Regions from separate parts of the Homo sapiens genome. Here region 1 is linked to region 2. A link means that fine-mapping ties the variant in region 2 to the expression of a gene that starts in the linked region. Tissue or cell type: whole blood. Region 2 holds a variant in brackets; the other region holds the start of a gene. All regions are shown on one strand. Distances are between the middles of the regions.

Region 1 (8,097 bases), 78 kb before region 2:
CTTCTGATTCTATATGGGATGCCCTTCCTACATTTCACCTTCAAAGCTGATCTTGAAACTCCTCCATCAGAAAGTCTGAAAAAGATGGAATCATCTGCCTGCTACTCAATGCATAGTTAATTAATCCCTGCTGTAACATTGCATAGGAGTTTGTACTTGTCCATTGTAAAAGGTAAAGTACCACTCTGGTTAAAGGTGCACCCAGTGAGAAGTCAGACCAGGGCTCAATTCCTGATTGTGCCTCTTGGCTCACTTAATGTCCCTGAACCCATGCAGATCTACACCTTGCAGGGTTTGTTAACTGATAACTAAAGAGATGGCACACCAAAGCATAATATAAAGACATTTTGAATTTATTCCTTGTGATGTTTAAGACAAGGTTCTGTACAAGTACGGACGACCAAAGCAAAAATGGACAAACGGGGTCACATCAAGTTAAAAAGCTTCTGCACAGCAAAAGAAGCAATCAACAAATTGAAGAGACAACACACAGAATGGGAGAAAATATTTGCAAACTACTTATCTGATAAGAGATTAATAACCAGAATATATAAGGATCTCAAGCAACTCTACAGGAAAAAATCTAATACTCTGGTTAAAAAATAGGCAAAAGATTTGAATAGACATTTCTCAAAAGAATACATACAAATGGCAAACAGACATATGAGAAGGTGCTCAATATTACTGATCATCAGAGAAATGCAAATCAAAACTCCAATGAGATATCATCTCACTCCTGTTAAAATGGCTTATATTCAAAAAGCAGGCAATAACAAATGCTGGTAAGGATGTAGAGAAAAGGGAACCCTCATACACTGCTAGTGGGAATGTAAATTAGTATAACTACTAGGGAGAACAGTTTGGAGGTTCCTCAAAAAAACTAAAAATTGAGCTCCTATATGATCCAGCAATCCCACTGCTGGGTATATACCTAAAAGAAAGGAAATCAGTTTATCAAAGAGATATCTGCATTCCCATGTTTGTTGCAGCTCTGTTCACCATAGCCAAGATTTGGAAGCAATCTAAGTGTCCATTAACAGATGAATGAATAAAGAACAAATGGTACTTACACACAATGGAGCACTATTCAGCCATAAAAAAAGAATGAGATTTAGTCATTTGCAACAACATGGATGGAACTGGAAGTCATTATGTTAAGCGAAATAAGCCAGACACAGAAAGACAAACATCACATGTTCTCACTTATTTGGAGGATCTAAAAATCAAAACAATTCAACCCATGGAGATAGAGAGTAGAAGGATGGTTACCAGAGGCTGGGAAGGGTAATGGGGGAATGGGGACAGTGAGGATGGTTAATGGGTACAAAAAATAGTTTGAATGCATGAATAAGACCTAGTATTTAATAGAACAACCTAGTATTTAATAGACCTAGTATTTAATAGTTATTATAGTCAATAATAACTGTACATTTTAAAGTAACTAAAAGGGTATAATTGGATTGTTTGTAACACAAAGGATAAATGCTTGAGGGGATGGATACCTGATTCCCATGATGTGATTATCATGCATTGCATACCTGCATCAAAATATCTCATGTACCCCATAAAGATATTCACCTATTATGTAACTACACAAATTTAAAATTATAAAAGTTATTTTTAAAAAGAAAAGGTTCTGGTATAAAGAAGATGATACCATTCAGCCTCTTTTTTTTTTTTTTTTTTTGAGACGAAGTCTCATTCTGTTGCCCAAGCTGGAGTATTAGTGGCACGATCTCTGCTCACTGCAACTTCCACCTCCTGGTTTCAAGCGATTCTCCTGCCTCAGCCTCCCAAGTAGCTGGGACTACAGGCACGCACCACCATGCCCAGCTAGAGACAGGGTTTCACTATGTTGGCCAGGCTGGTTTTGAACTCCTGACCTTGTGATCCGCCCGCCTCTACCTCCCAAAGTGCTGGGATTACAGGCATGAGACACTGCACCTGGCTTTTTTTATTTTTTGGAAACAATCTCACACTGATTTGTTTCCCAAAACAGTCGAGGAGAGTTTGGGCTATTATAATATCTATCAGTTCTTTCCAAACATTCTTTTCAGGTAAAGTCAGGTTTACGTACTTGGTTATGTTCAATTTAACTCTGTGTGACGAGGCAATGCTGTGTCCAGCAGCGCCCATTTCCTTTTCCATGAGGCACACATTCTTTACTTCCCAGCCACCCTTCTGGGTAGGGCCATGTGACCATGCGCATGAGTTCTGGCTAAGGGAATGGGGTGAAAATGATACACACCACTTCCAGGACTGGCCCCTAATATCTCTGACAAGTTAACCACGGCCAGCCTCCCTTATCTGAGGGCCACAGATTTGACTACATTACCAAGGCCTCGGCATGGGAGAACCACCAAATGCAAGAAGCCTGGTCCTTCAATGAATTCAAGAAGTACAGACCCCACCCTCTGGCCCCAACCAACTTGTTACCACACTGTGACTTGTATGAACATAAGCCTTTATGGAGTTAAGCCCCGAGATACTGGTTTTGCTAGCCTACTCCAATTAACGCACCTTATATTTACCACCAGTGGTAGCATAAGTGAAAAGAACCCCTGGACTTAGTTCCAGGACCCGGGATAAAAATTCTGGCTCTACTACTACCCCGACATATCCCATGATCTGCTCCTAGAATATGCTCTATACTCTTCCCAACTGCGTGTCTACTGCATTTTCCTCTTTCATTAGACAGCCCTCCTGACTCTTCTCTGCCTCACGATTTCTGTCAGAGTGGGGGGCCTTCTCTGACCTCCGTCCCATACGTGGTCACTTCTCTTTGCTTCAAGTGCAGCGTACGTTCCTCTGTTTTAGAATCTACGTTTTTATTGCAAATATTTGTTGACATGTGCTTCCCCAGACTGTGAATCCTTTAACTCCCAGCATTTAGTTACAGTGTCTGGCACACGTAGAAAATAAATATGCATTAAACGAATGATTGTCACATATGACCTTAAGTGAGTCAATTATTTTTTAAGTCTACTAAATAAAATTTTTGAAAATTGTTGTAATGATGAAATAAGGAATGTGAATGTGACTTGTAGGTTATAAACAGATTCTAACAGCAATGGGTTTACTCACTGTTTGTAGGCCCTTCTCATCTTTTCTAGTCAAATCCATCTTAATGCTGCAAGGTAGCACTATCCAATAGAAATATAATGCAAGCCATATTTATAGCCACATTTAAAAAGTTAAAACCAGGTGAAATTAATTTTAATATATTTAACCCAATATACCCAAAATATCACTTTTTAAATTAAATCTTCTAAATCTTGGAACACATCTCTATTCAGACCAGCCACATTTCGAGAGCTCAGGTGTCACCTGCGGCTACGGCTCCCGCAAATGGGACAGCAGCCGCAAGGCCAACTTCAGATAGCAACCTGACTTCCCCTCAGGCAGAATAAGTGACTCCTCCTCAGTGCTCTCTCAAGCCCTTTATCCTATCGTGAAAACTAGAGGGTACGCTCCTTGAGGAATTCCAGACTGTTGTCTGGAGAAATCGCTCTCGGCCTCGGTCTGGCCTGTAACGGGCGGTTACGCAATTCCAGGTAATTGACGAACCCTGAGGACAGAACTCCGTGGGAGGCCCAGTAGCCAGAGCGGAAAATGGTCAGTCAGGCAAGAGTGCGGGCAAGTGGCCACAGCAGGCTGCGATTCCGGCGCCCGCCGCCCTCCAAGCGTCTCGGGCCGCACCCTCCCCACAGCGGCGGGCGCGGAGGTCCCGGGTTCGCGTTTGGGGGCGCCTGAGCCGCAGCCCCGCCCCCTCCCGTCCCTCCCTCCCTCCCTCCCTCCCACTCCTCTCCCTCCCACTCCTCTCCCTCCCACTCCCCGCACCTCCGCCGCCGCAGAGCCCCGGAAGCGGGCGGGGATTTCCTGTGCCCGCCCCGCCCCGCCCGCGCCTGCCGGGCCGCCGTCTCCGCCTGTCGCTGGCTCCGCCGGCCGCCGGCTCCCAGACGCAAGCGGAGGGCGGAGGGGAGGGGCAGGCGGCGCCCGGGAGGGAGGCACCGGGCCGCGGGCCAAGCCTACCGGGGGTGAGTGGAGCCGGGCCGGAGGGAGCTGCGGCTGGAGGGAGGGACGCCTGGCTTCCCGGGGCGGCTGGTGGGGGCTCGGTCACCCATAGGGGCTGGGAGGAGGATCGGCGCGTCTTCCGGGTTGCTGCCTTTCCCGGGGGTCTGCCCCGCTGACATTCTGTGCCCGCCTCTCGCCCTGTCTCCCCGTGCCCATCGCAACTGTCAGGCCCTGCGGGCTCCCGCCGCTGTCACTCGCGCACAGGTTACCCCGTGGCTCCCTTTCTCTTCACTTGCTCATGCCCCAGCTCATGGGAAACCTGTTTTCTGACCTCACTTCCCCTGCTCCAGTTCTGCCTTGCTCGGATTCTCTGAAATCTGACCCTTTCCAGGGGCACTGTGACAAGAAGAAGGGAAGAAGCAACCTTACCCCTGAGCAGGCTCCCGTCCCGCCCATGCCCTACCCGTGGCAGGGGCCAGGGTTCTCTGATGGACGGAGCCAACTCGTCCGTGTGCCCTTGGGCTACTCATTTTTATAACATGGCCCCTTTTCTGTTCATCAGCACTGGCTGCAGAAACTTCCTTTTGCAGGTCCCTTGCTACCCATATGTGTGAAGAAAAGGGGGAAATGAAAGCCCTAGAACCCACACTGCAGTGGGCATGGGATCATCCTGGAACCAGGAGAAACGAGGTTAGGGCTACCACCTTAACCGCCCAGGTGCTGGCTCTGCGTGAATATCTTAGGAAATGCAAGCTGAGGACAGGTACCCATCCCATCCTTTGCTGAGATTTTTGCTAGCACTTCCACGGATTTCTGTCAGTGGTATAGAAAAACTTACAGCTGGCCCAATGGGCTCTGCACAAAGAGGCTTCCCATTAAGAGACTCTGCTACCTGGGGGAGATGGAGAAAGGGTTTGAGACAAGTGTCCAGATATGTAGCTAGAGGTAAAGCCTTCAGGGAGGATTTGCACAGGAGCTAGAGAACCAGAAAGATGGGACGAAGAGGGAGAATTAGTGCCCTGTGTGTTAAAAGTGGATACAGAGCTGGAATTCAGAGAAGAGAGCTAAAATGGAAGTTTCCCTTTATTGCTTTAGCAAGAATTTTCCTTTCTCATGAAAAGTCTCTGAAAAGGAAACCTCCTAGGCTGGGAATCAGTCCAGGGTGCTCCCATGAGGCCCTGAGCCATCTTTGGACTTCTGAGATAAAAAGGGAATTTGTTTTTCCTGTGCATTGGGCTTAGGGTTCCCACCTACCTCTTTTGTCAAAGACAAATAGGCAAGAAAATAGACGACTTGACATCTGTGATTACCTACCCTGGCCTTCAAGGTTCTTGCAAGTGTTATTGAAAGGATGTAAGTAAGCCAGGATAGTTACCAAGTTTCTGACTGCTCTTGGAAGCCTTTCACTGACTCTGACTGTTTGGATATTGAATAAGAATACCCAAAATATGTTGCCAAACAGAAAGAGATTCTGAGTCTCAGATTATTTCTCTGCCATAAAGCCCTATCACAACAGAAGTGTGACCCATCCTGCTCTTAAGTTGTCTAAAGAAAAAGAAGAGCCCACTATCTGGTATTGTACACTGCAGGATTATTAAGAATTAAAAAAAAATAACCTAAATCTCTTCTCTTGCAATCAAGACCCATTTTTTTCTGTTTGACCTATATAGAGATAGAAGGGACCTCTGTTTTTATTCATTAGTAGCATCATTCATCAGCCTTCTTCTCCAGACAGAGAAAACTACATCCGACATTTTTAACTTTCCCAGTGGCTGTATTTCCAATCCCTTTCTTGACTTTGATGTTTTCTGATGAACACACACTGGCTTCACCATACGCTTCTTTCAAACTGAATATATTTTTCTAATGAGATCTGACTGGTGCCTGACAAATAAACAGGTTTGTTCTTCTGGGTCATGTTAGCAGCAGTTCTTCCCCCCTTTTCCAGCTCTGGTTCAAACTCTTTCTGTTCCTTTTTACTTTTCCTGATTAAACTTCAGCTCCTCACAGACCAACAATTTCTCTTACCTCTTAGGATTACTTTGGAGTCTTAACACCTGCTTTCCAAGTTATCAGTTTTTCTACCATATTTACTACCAGTTTTCATTGGATGGTAGACCAAGTGCCTTTTTATTGAGGCTTGTCCCAAGTGAGGTACCTTTTGGCCCAGCCTCATGATACAAATACGCCCCTTGGTTGGGACTTTTACCTATAGTAATCATTTCATTCTAAACTGATGAGACTGTGATTTGTGGCAGAAAATCTTCTGTGTGATTACATCCATCTTGTTGAGTGCAGGTCTATATGTATTTCTTCCTGTATGTTTCCAAATTGCTTACTTTCCTGTACTTCATGTGCTTGAAATTAAATGGATAGCCTTTGAATTTCCAGGACAGTTCTTTTTTTTTAAATGAACTTCTTCTAACCTTCAGGTATATTCTGTTTCTATAATGAGGTCCACAAAATACCAGTTAGTGGCTTTGCTACGTAGCACCTGCCAATTTCTTAGTTCCTCCAAGAAGCTTGGTGCAGGCTCCGTTGATCGGAACACATCAAGCTTTTAAAGTTCATCTTCCAGCAAGCTCCTCCTATCTAGTTTTGTCTATTATCCCTGGGCCTGTTCTTCATAACTCCCTTAGAAATATCACTCCTTTCCCATTTTCATGGGCATTGCTGATATGAATTTGTTCCAGGTCACAATTTGGGTCTGCAGCAGAAATGCTTTCAGAACAGACAGCAGCGCTGGGGACAGGATGGGAATCAATGAATGTACAGCTGGATGGAGCAGAGCCCCAGGTGGAAAGGGGAAGCCAGGAAGAGCGGCCATGGAGAACAGTACCAGGACCTCTGGAGCACCTGTGCTGTGACCTTGAAGAGGAGCCACAGTCCCTTCAGGAGAAGGGTGAGAACTCACAGAGTGTGTGGGAAGCACAGTGCATAGTCTCCTAATATTTATTCCAAAAGTAGGGTTAAAAATCTCCAAATTGCCATGGACTAAATAGCATAACCTGTACCAGGACCAGCCCATTCTTTCTCAGCCCTGGTCACAGGTACAGAATAGGCTCCTGAATTCAGCAAACCATGCAACTGGGCTTCTCTTGTTTCTTCATAATTACTCCCTCCACATGCAAATGCATAATTAGTGATACTGAATGAGGGAGATGAAGGAAGTGACAGCAACCTGATTACTGTTGGATAACCCACTCAGTAAGATGTAATTTACTAGATGAAAATTACATTCAAGTACTGTAAATTCAAACTATAGCTAGTCTAACTAAAAGCCATCTGATACCCTTTCAGAACATTTTGAGTGATGGCCTTCTCATCTACATTTATGCATTTGAGTTTTACCAATGGGCATAGATACAGAAGTTGTGACCCTTAAGCCTCTCTAAAATGGGGCCCAGGCCCCATTGAGAAAGGGTAGATCGTTATTCTCTAATGTTTCTTCTCTCTCCTTATCAGCTCAGTCTGCTCCCTGGGTTCCTGCAATTCCCCAGGAGGGGAACACTGGAGACTGGGAGATGGCAGCTGCACTTCTTGCGGCTGGATCACAGGTGAGCTCTGCTTCCCTTGGCGTCTCCTGTGGTCCCATCACTGCTGCCTTTGTATTGCTTTCGCATCAGCCCATTGATGAGTTGGCTCACATGATCATCAATGGTATGTTCATCTTATAACTGAATAGATTCTATCCCTTTCCAAGGGGTCATAAGACCCTTGGAAAATTAAATGGACCTACAAGAAAGGGAATTCCTTGAGGTTAGGGTTTTTTTGAGTTTTGTTTTGTTTTTTGTTTTTGAGACAGAATCTCACTGTGTTGCCCTGGTTGGAGTGCAGTGGTATGATCTTGGCTCCCTGCAACCTCCACCTTCTGGGTTCAAGCGATTCTTGTGCTTCAGCCTCCCAAGTAGCTGGGACTACTGGCACACGCCACCACACCTAGCTAATTTTTGTGTTTTTAGTAGAGACAAGGTTTTGCCACGTTGGCCAGGCTGGTCTTGAACTGCTGACGTCAGGTGATCTGCCCACCTCAGCCTCCCAAAGTGCTGGGGTCACAGGTATGAGCCACCGTGCCTGGCCAAG
Region 2 (8,106 bases):
GAATCATAGTGATATAAATACCAACACACACACACACACTACACACACACGATGTGTCCTATTTAAACATTTGAAAACCAAAGATAAAGAGAAAATCTAGAAGACAGTCAGACAAAAAAGACACATTACCTAAAGGAAAAAAATTAAATTTACAGCATAGTCATCACAAGAAACTAAGACATAGAGTGACATCTTTAAAATGTTAAAAGAAAAAAAAAGTAACATGGAATTCTATACCAAGTGAAAATACTTTTCAAAATGAAAGAGAAATTAAGCAGACCTATGCCACAAGAAATGTTAAAGAAAGTTCTTGGCTGGGTGTGGTGGCTCACGCCTGTAATCCCAGCATTTTGAGAGGCCAAGGTGGGTGGATCACTAGGTCAGGAGATTGAGACCATCCTGGCTAACACGGTGAAACCCTGTCTCTACTAAAAATACAAAAAAGATTAGCAGGGCATGGTGGTTGGTGTCTGTAGTCCCAGCTACTTGGGAGGCTGAGGCAGGAGAATGGCATGAACCCAGGATGCAGAGCTTGCAGTGAGCCAAGATCGCGCCACTGCACTCCAGCCTGGGTGACAGAGTGAGACTACATCTCAAAAAAAAAAAAAAGAAAAAAAAAAAAAGGAAAGTTCTTTAAGAGGAAGGAATGTAATACTAGACAGAAACTTGAATCTATGCAAAGATCTTTTGGAATTGTTAAAGTCAAAGTAAATATAAAATATTTTTTCTTGTTAATAACTTTAGAAGATAATTTACTGTCTAAAGCAAAAACAAAGGCAACCTACTCTGGGTTTGGAGCACAAGTAAAAGTAAAACATATAACAATTGCATAAAGAGTGAGAGAAATTAGGGAAGTTATTACGCTACACATAAGTGGCATAATACTATTTGAAGGTAGACTGTGATTAAATAAATGTGTTTATGAAAACTCCTAGGGCAGATTGCTGGCAAGATGGCCAAATAGGAACAGCTCCAGTCTGCAGCTCCCAGTGAGATCAACACAGAAGATGGGTGATTTCTGCATTTCCAACTGAGCCTCCACTGGTGATACCCAGGCAAACAGTGTCGGGAGTGGACCTCCAGCAAATTCCAGCAGACCTGCAGCGGAGAGGCCTGACTGTTAGAAGGAAAACTAACAAACAGAAAGGAGTAGCATGTCCACTCAAAGACTCCAACCGAAAGTCACCAACATCAAAGACCAAAGGTAGATAAATCCAAAAAGATGGGGAGAAACCAGCACTAAAAGGCTGAAAATTCCAAAAACCACAACACCTCTTCTCCTCCAAAGGATCATAACTCCTTGCCAGCAAGGGAACAAATCTGGATGGAGAATGAGTTTGAGGAATTCACAGAAGTAGGCTTCAGAAGGTGGGTAATAACAAACTCCTCCGAGCTAAAGGAGCATGTTCTAACCCAATTCAAGAAAGCTAAGAACCTTGAAAAAAGCTTAGATGAACTGCTAACTAGAATAATCAGTTTAGAGAAGAACATAAATGACCTGATGGAGCTGAAAAACACAGCACGAGAACTTCGTGAAGCATACACAAGTATCAATAGCGGAATCGATCAAATGGAAGAAAGGATATCAGGGATTGAAGATCAACTTAATGAAATAAAGCGAGAAGACAAGATTAGAGAAAAAAGAATAAAAAGGAATGAACAAAGCCTCCAAGAAATATGGGACTATGTGAAAAGACCAAATCTATGTTTGATTGAAGTACCTGAAAGTGACAGGGAAAATGGAACCAAGTTAGAAAACACTCTTCAGGATATTATCCAGGAGAACTTCCCCAACCGAGCAAGACAGGCCAACATTCAAATTCAGGAAATACAGAGAATACCACAAAGATACTCCTCGAGAAGAGCAACTCCAAGACACATAATCATCAGATTCACCAAGGTTGAAATGAAGGAAAAAACAGCCAGAGAGAAAGGTCAGTTTACCCACAAAGGGAAGCCCATCAGGCTAACAGTGGATCTCTTTGCAGAAACCCTACAAGCCAGAAGAGAGTGGGGGGAAATATTGAACATTCTTTTTTTTTTTTTTTTTTTTTTTGAGATGGTGTCTCGCTCTATCACCCAGGCTGGAGTGCGGTGGCACAATCTCTGCTCACTGCAAGCTCCGTCTCCTGGGTTCATGCCATTCTCCTGCCTCAGCCTCCCGAGTACATGGGACTACAGGCACCCACCACCATGTCTGGCTAATTTTTTTTGTATTTTTTTTAGTAGAGATGGGGTTTCACCACGTTAGCCAGGATGGTATCAATCTCCTGACCTCCTGATCTGCACACCTCGGCCTCCCAAAGTGCTGGGATTACAGGTGTGAGCCACTGTGCCCAACCAATATTCAACATTTTTAAGGAAAAGAATTTTCAACTCAGAATTTCATATCCAGCCAAACTAAGCTTCATAAGCAAAGGAGAAATAAGATACTTTACAGACAAGCAAATGCTGAGAGATTTTATCACCACCAGGCCTGCCTTTCAAGAGCTCCTGAAGGAAGCACTAAACATGGAAAGGAACAACTGGTACCAGCCACTGCAAAAACATGCCAAATTGTAAAGAACATCAACACTATGAAGAAACTGCATCAGATAAGGGGCAAAACAACCAGCTAGCATCATAGTGACAGGATCAAATTCACACATAACAATATTAACCTTAAATGTAAATGGGCAAAATGCCTCAATTAAAAGACACAGACTGGCAAATTGGATAAAGAGTCAAGACCCATCAGTGTGCTGTATTCAGGAGACTCATCTCATGTGCAAAGACACACATAGACTCAAAATAAAGGGATAAAGGGATGGAGGAATATTTACCAAGCAAATGGAAAGCAAAAAAAAAGAAAAAAGAAAAAAAGCAGGAGTCACAATCCTAATCTCTGATAAAACAGACTTTAAATCAACAAAGATCAAAAGAGACAAAGAACGGCATTACATAATGGTAAAGGGATCAATTCAACAAGAAGAGCTAACTATCCTAAATATATATGCACCCAATACAGGAGCACCCAGATTCATAAAGCAAATTCTTAGAGACCTACAAAGAGACTTAGACTCCCACACAATAGTAGTGGGAGATTTTAATACCCTACTGTCAATATTAGACATATCAATGAGACAGAAAATTAACAAGGATATTCAGGACTTCAACTCAGCTCTGGACCAAGCAGACCTAAAGGACATCTACAAAACTCTCCACTGCAAATCAAGAGAATGTACACTCTTCTCAGCACCTCATCACACTTATTCTAAAATTGACCACACAATTGGAAGTAAAACACTCCTCAGCAAATGCAAAAGAACGGAAATCATAACAAACAGCCTCTCAGACCACAGTGCAATCAAATTAGAACTCAGGATTAAGAAACCCACTCAAAACCACAAAACTACATGGAAACTGAACAACTTGCTCCTGAATGACTACTGGGTAAATAACGAAATGAAGGCAGATATAAAGATGTTTATTGAAACCAATGAGAACAAAGACACAACATGCCAGAATCTCTGGGACATATTTAAAGCAGTGTGTAGAGGGAAATTTATAACACTAAATGCCAGAAAGATCTAAAATTGACAGTCTAACATCACAATTAAAAGAACTAGAGAAGCAAGAGCAAACAAATTCAAAAGCTAGCAGAAGACAAGAAATAACTAAGATCAGAGCAGAACTGAAGGAAATAGAGACACAAAAAACCCTTCAAAAAATCAATGCATCCAGGAG[C/G]TGGTGTTTTGAAAAGATCCACAAAATAGATAGACTGCTAGCCAGACTAATAAAGAAGAAAAGAGAGAAGAATCAAACAGACGCAATAAAAAATGATATGGGGGATATCACCACCGATCCCACAGAAATACAAACTACCATCAGAGAATACTGTAAACACATCTATGCAAATAAACTAGAAAATCTAGGAGAAATGGATAAATTCCTGGACACATACACCCTCCCAAGTCTAAACCAGGAAGAAGTCGAATCCCTGAATAGACCAATAAAAAGTTCTGAAATTGAGGCACTAATTAATAGCCTACCAACCAAAAAAAGTCCAGAACCAGATGGATTCATAGCCGAATTCTACCAGAGGTACAAAGAGGAGCTGGTACCATTCCTTCTGAAACTATTCCAAACAATAGAAAAAGAGGGAATCCTCCCTAACTCATTTTATGAGGCCACCATCATTCTGATACTAAAACCTGGCAGAGACACAACAAAAAAAGAAAATTTCAGGCCAATATCCCTGATGAACATCAATGCAAAAATCCTCAATAAAATACTGGCAAACCAAATCCAGCAGCACATCATAAAGCTTATCCACCACGGTCAAGTCACCTTCATTCCTGGGATGCAAGGCTGGTTCAACATATGCAAATCAATAACCATAATCCATCACATAAACAGAACATGTATACCCATGTAACAAAACTGCACGTTCTGCTCATGTACCCTAGAACTTAAAGTATAATAATAATAAAAAAAATTCTAGGGCAGCCACTTAAAAACTGTAAAGATGTATAAATGATAAGCCAATAGTGAAGATAAAATGAAATCATTTAAAAAAGTTTAATACGGCTGGTCGTGGTGGCTCACGCCTATAATCCCAGCACTTTGGGAGGCCAAGGCAGGCGGATCAGGAGGTCAGGAGATTAAGACCATCCTGGCTAACATGGTGAAACCCTGTCTCTATTAAAAATACAAAAAATTAGCCGGGCGTGGTGGCAGGCGCCAGTAGTCCCAGCTACTCGGGAGGCTGAGGCAGGAGACAGGAGAATGGCCTGAACCCGGGAGGCGGAGCTTGCAGTGAGCCGAGATCGCGCCACTGCACTCCAGCCTGAGCAACAGAGCGAGACTTTGACTCAAAAAAAAAAAAAAAGTTAAATACAAAAGTAGGCAGAAAAATTCCACACCCATTTATTACCAAACCTCTTGGAAACTATGTATAGAAGGAAACCTTTCTGAACTGAAAAAGAATACCTTAAAAAATCTGCAGTAGTAGATATTCTAAGAGTACCTTAAAATAGTGTATTTAATAATGATGGACCAAATCTTTTTATCCTAAGACTGAGAAAAGGCAAAAATATCTGTTATCACCACTCTTATTCAACATTATACAGAAGGTCTAGCCTGTAAAATAATGCCAAAAGAAAAAAAGGAATAAAAAGAAAAGAAAGAAATGAGTGACAAAGAGAGAAGGTGGGCAGAGGGAGGAAGAAAAGGGATACAGATTAGAGAGAAATAAATGAGGCCGCGCGCAGTGGCTCACGCCTATAATCCCAGCACTTTGGGAGGCCGAGGCAGGTGGATCACAAGGTCAGGAGTTTGAGACCAGCCTGGCCAACATAGAGAAACCCCTCTCTACTAAAAATACAAAAAATTAGCCAGGTGTAGTGGCGGGCACCTGTAATCCCAGGTACTCGGGAGGCTGAGGCAGGAGAACCGCTTGAGCCTGGGAGGCGGAGATTGAAGTGAGCCGAGATAGCGCCACTGCGCTCCAGACCAGGCGACAGTGCGAGACTCCGTTTCAGAAAAAAAAAAAAAAAAAAAAAGAGAGAGAGAGAAAGACATAATGAAAGCTGTCTCTATTCACAGATGACATGGTTGTTGACAGAGAATCTGCAAAATAAGTCAGTTCAGCAACGTCAATGTCCAAAATTGTGTCTAACAAGACATCTACAATACCTTTATGATAAAAACTACAAAGAAAAAAAGAAATCAAAGGAGACATAAATAAGTGAAAAGATATATTGTGTTCATGAATTGGAAAACTAAATATTGTTAAAATATCCTTTCTCCCTCACTGATATATAGATTCAAAACAATCTCCATAAAGATACTAGACAAATTTTCGTAGAAATCAGAAAACGAATTCTAAAATGTATTTGGCAATGCAAATGAACTAAAGTATCCAAAACAATTTTGAAAAAAAGAACACAGCAGGTTATTTTGCAAGTATAAAAAACGGATTCTTCAGTTTATACAGAAAGGCAAAAGACCCAAAATAGCCAACACAATATTGAAGGAGAACAAAATTGGAGAACTGACACTCCCCAGCTTCAAAGCTCAATATAGGGGGAGAGCATTAGGGAAAAGAGCTAAAGCATGTGGGGCTTAATACCTACCTGATGGGTTGATAGGTGCAGCAGACCACCATGGCACATGTTTATTTACCTATGTAACAAACCTGCACATCCTGCACATGTACCCTGGAACTTAAAAAAAAAAAGACTTAATATAAAACTATAATAATTAGAAGTGTGGTATTGGCAAAAAAAAGAAAGAAAGAAATAGGCTAATGGAATGGAATAGTGAGCCCAGACATAAACCCATACAAATATAGTCAATTGATCTTTGACAAAGGAGCAAAGGCAATTAAACAAAGAAAGGATATTCTTTTCAACAAATAGTGCTGAAAAAAATTAGACATCCACATGCAAAGAAATGAATCTACACATAGATTTTACACCTTTCACAACAATTAACTCAAATACATTATAGACCTAAATATAAAATTAAAAACTATAAAAATACTAGAAATAATATAGAAGAAAATCTAGGTGACCTTAGCTTTGACAATGACTTTTTAGATAACACCACCAACAGCATGATGCATAAAAGAAAAAGCTAAGTTGTATTTCACTAAAATTAAAAACTTGTGCTTTTGTGAAAGCCAATGCTCAGAGAATAAAACCAGCCATAGACTGCAAGAAAATATTTGCAAAACATGTATCTGTTATGGGACTGGTGTCCAAAATATACAAAAATGTTTATAACTCAACAATAAGAAAACAACAACCTAATCAAACAGTGGACAAAAATCTGAGCAGACTCCTCACCAAAGAAGACATGCAAATGGAAAATGTGTGTATGAAAAGATGTTCAATCATCTATCATTAGGGAATTGCAAATTAAAACATCAGTGTGATACAACTGCATACCTATTAGGATGGCTAAAATCCCAAATATTGGCAACACAAATGCTAGCAAGGATGTGGAGCAATGAGAAGTCTCATTTATGGCTGATGGGAATGCAAAATTGTACAACCATTTTGGAATCCAGTTTGGCAATTTCTTACAAAACTAAACATGCTCTTACCATATGATCCAGCAGTCACAGTCCTTGGTATCTACTGAATGAGATGAAAACTGCACACAAATGTTTATAGCAGCTTTTTTTCACAACTATCCAAACTTGGAAGCAACCAAGATGTCATTCAGTAGGTCAATGGATGAACAGACTGTGGTACATCTTTACAGTGGAATATTATTCAACAATAAAAAGAAATTAGCTATGAAGCCACAAAAAATATATGGATGATCCTTAAATATATATTGCTATGCGAAAGAAGCCTATCTAAAAAGACTACGTCTTGTATGATTCCAACTATATAATGTTCAGGAAAAGACAAAACATGGAAATGGTTAAAAAAAATCAGTGGTTGCTAGCTATTTAGCAGGAAGAAAAGAGGGATGAATAGGTGGAGGATGAATAGGTATTATTCTGTATGATACTATAATAGTATATCCATGCCATTATATATTTGTCAAAACACAGAAAATACAACACAAAGAGTGAACGCTAATGGTAAACAATGGACTTTAGCAAATAATAAATTTATTGGTACTGATTCATCAATTATTATATCTCAATAAAGAAAAGGATTTGGGGAAAGGTTTCCATTACTAAACCACCTTTCCATTCTCCCTCCCACATAACTATAAAACCCTGGCAATGCTATATAAAATATTTATTAAATCCTATCAAATGCTTACTGAGCTTTCAAGAAAATAAGAAAAGTCCTCAGTGGGCAAAAAGAGTAAAAGCTGAAAGTCAGAATGACAGTTAGGTGCTAACGCCATTTTGTCAGGAAATGTTTGCAGATTTTAACAAATAAGAGGTTACAAATGATTATGCTAGAAGAGGAAGCAAAGGCATAGACCTACATAATGTAGGGAGTTGAAAATGAGATAATCACTGATGCTTGTACCCTCAAAGGCTTATACACCCAATTAAAGAATGGCAAAAATTTGCTGGGCATTGTGGTTCATGCCTATAAATCCAGAACTTTGGGAGGCCGAGGCAGGAGGATCACTTGAGACCAGGAGTTGGAG

The links. PIP is the estimated chance that this variant, and not a neighbour inherited with it, causes the effect.
Region 1: it holds the start of ZNF641, and the variant in region 2 is fine-mapped to the expression of ZNF641 in whole blood (INTERVAL, PIP above 0.99).

Annotation. Positions count from the first base shown.
Region 1 is chr12:48,346,726-48,354,822 of GRCh38, reverse strand. ZNF641 (zinc finger protein 641) reads left to right here and starts at 3,904. Exons shown (of 6, transcript NM_001172681.2): 1 at 3,904-4,037; 2 at 6,708-6,916; 3 at 7,480-7,571. The coding sequence starts at 6,733. RefSeq lists silencers at 3,394-3,473, 3,754-4,183 and enhancers at 3,149-3,885, 4,324-4,393.
Region 2 is chr12:48,268,680-48,276,785 of GRCh38, reverse strand. No RefSeq gene overlaps it. Among named protein-coding and RNA genes, the nearest start is that of H1-7, 56 kb to the left of the region's middle. The variant C/G (reference allele first, on the strand shown) is at 3,727.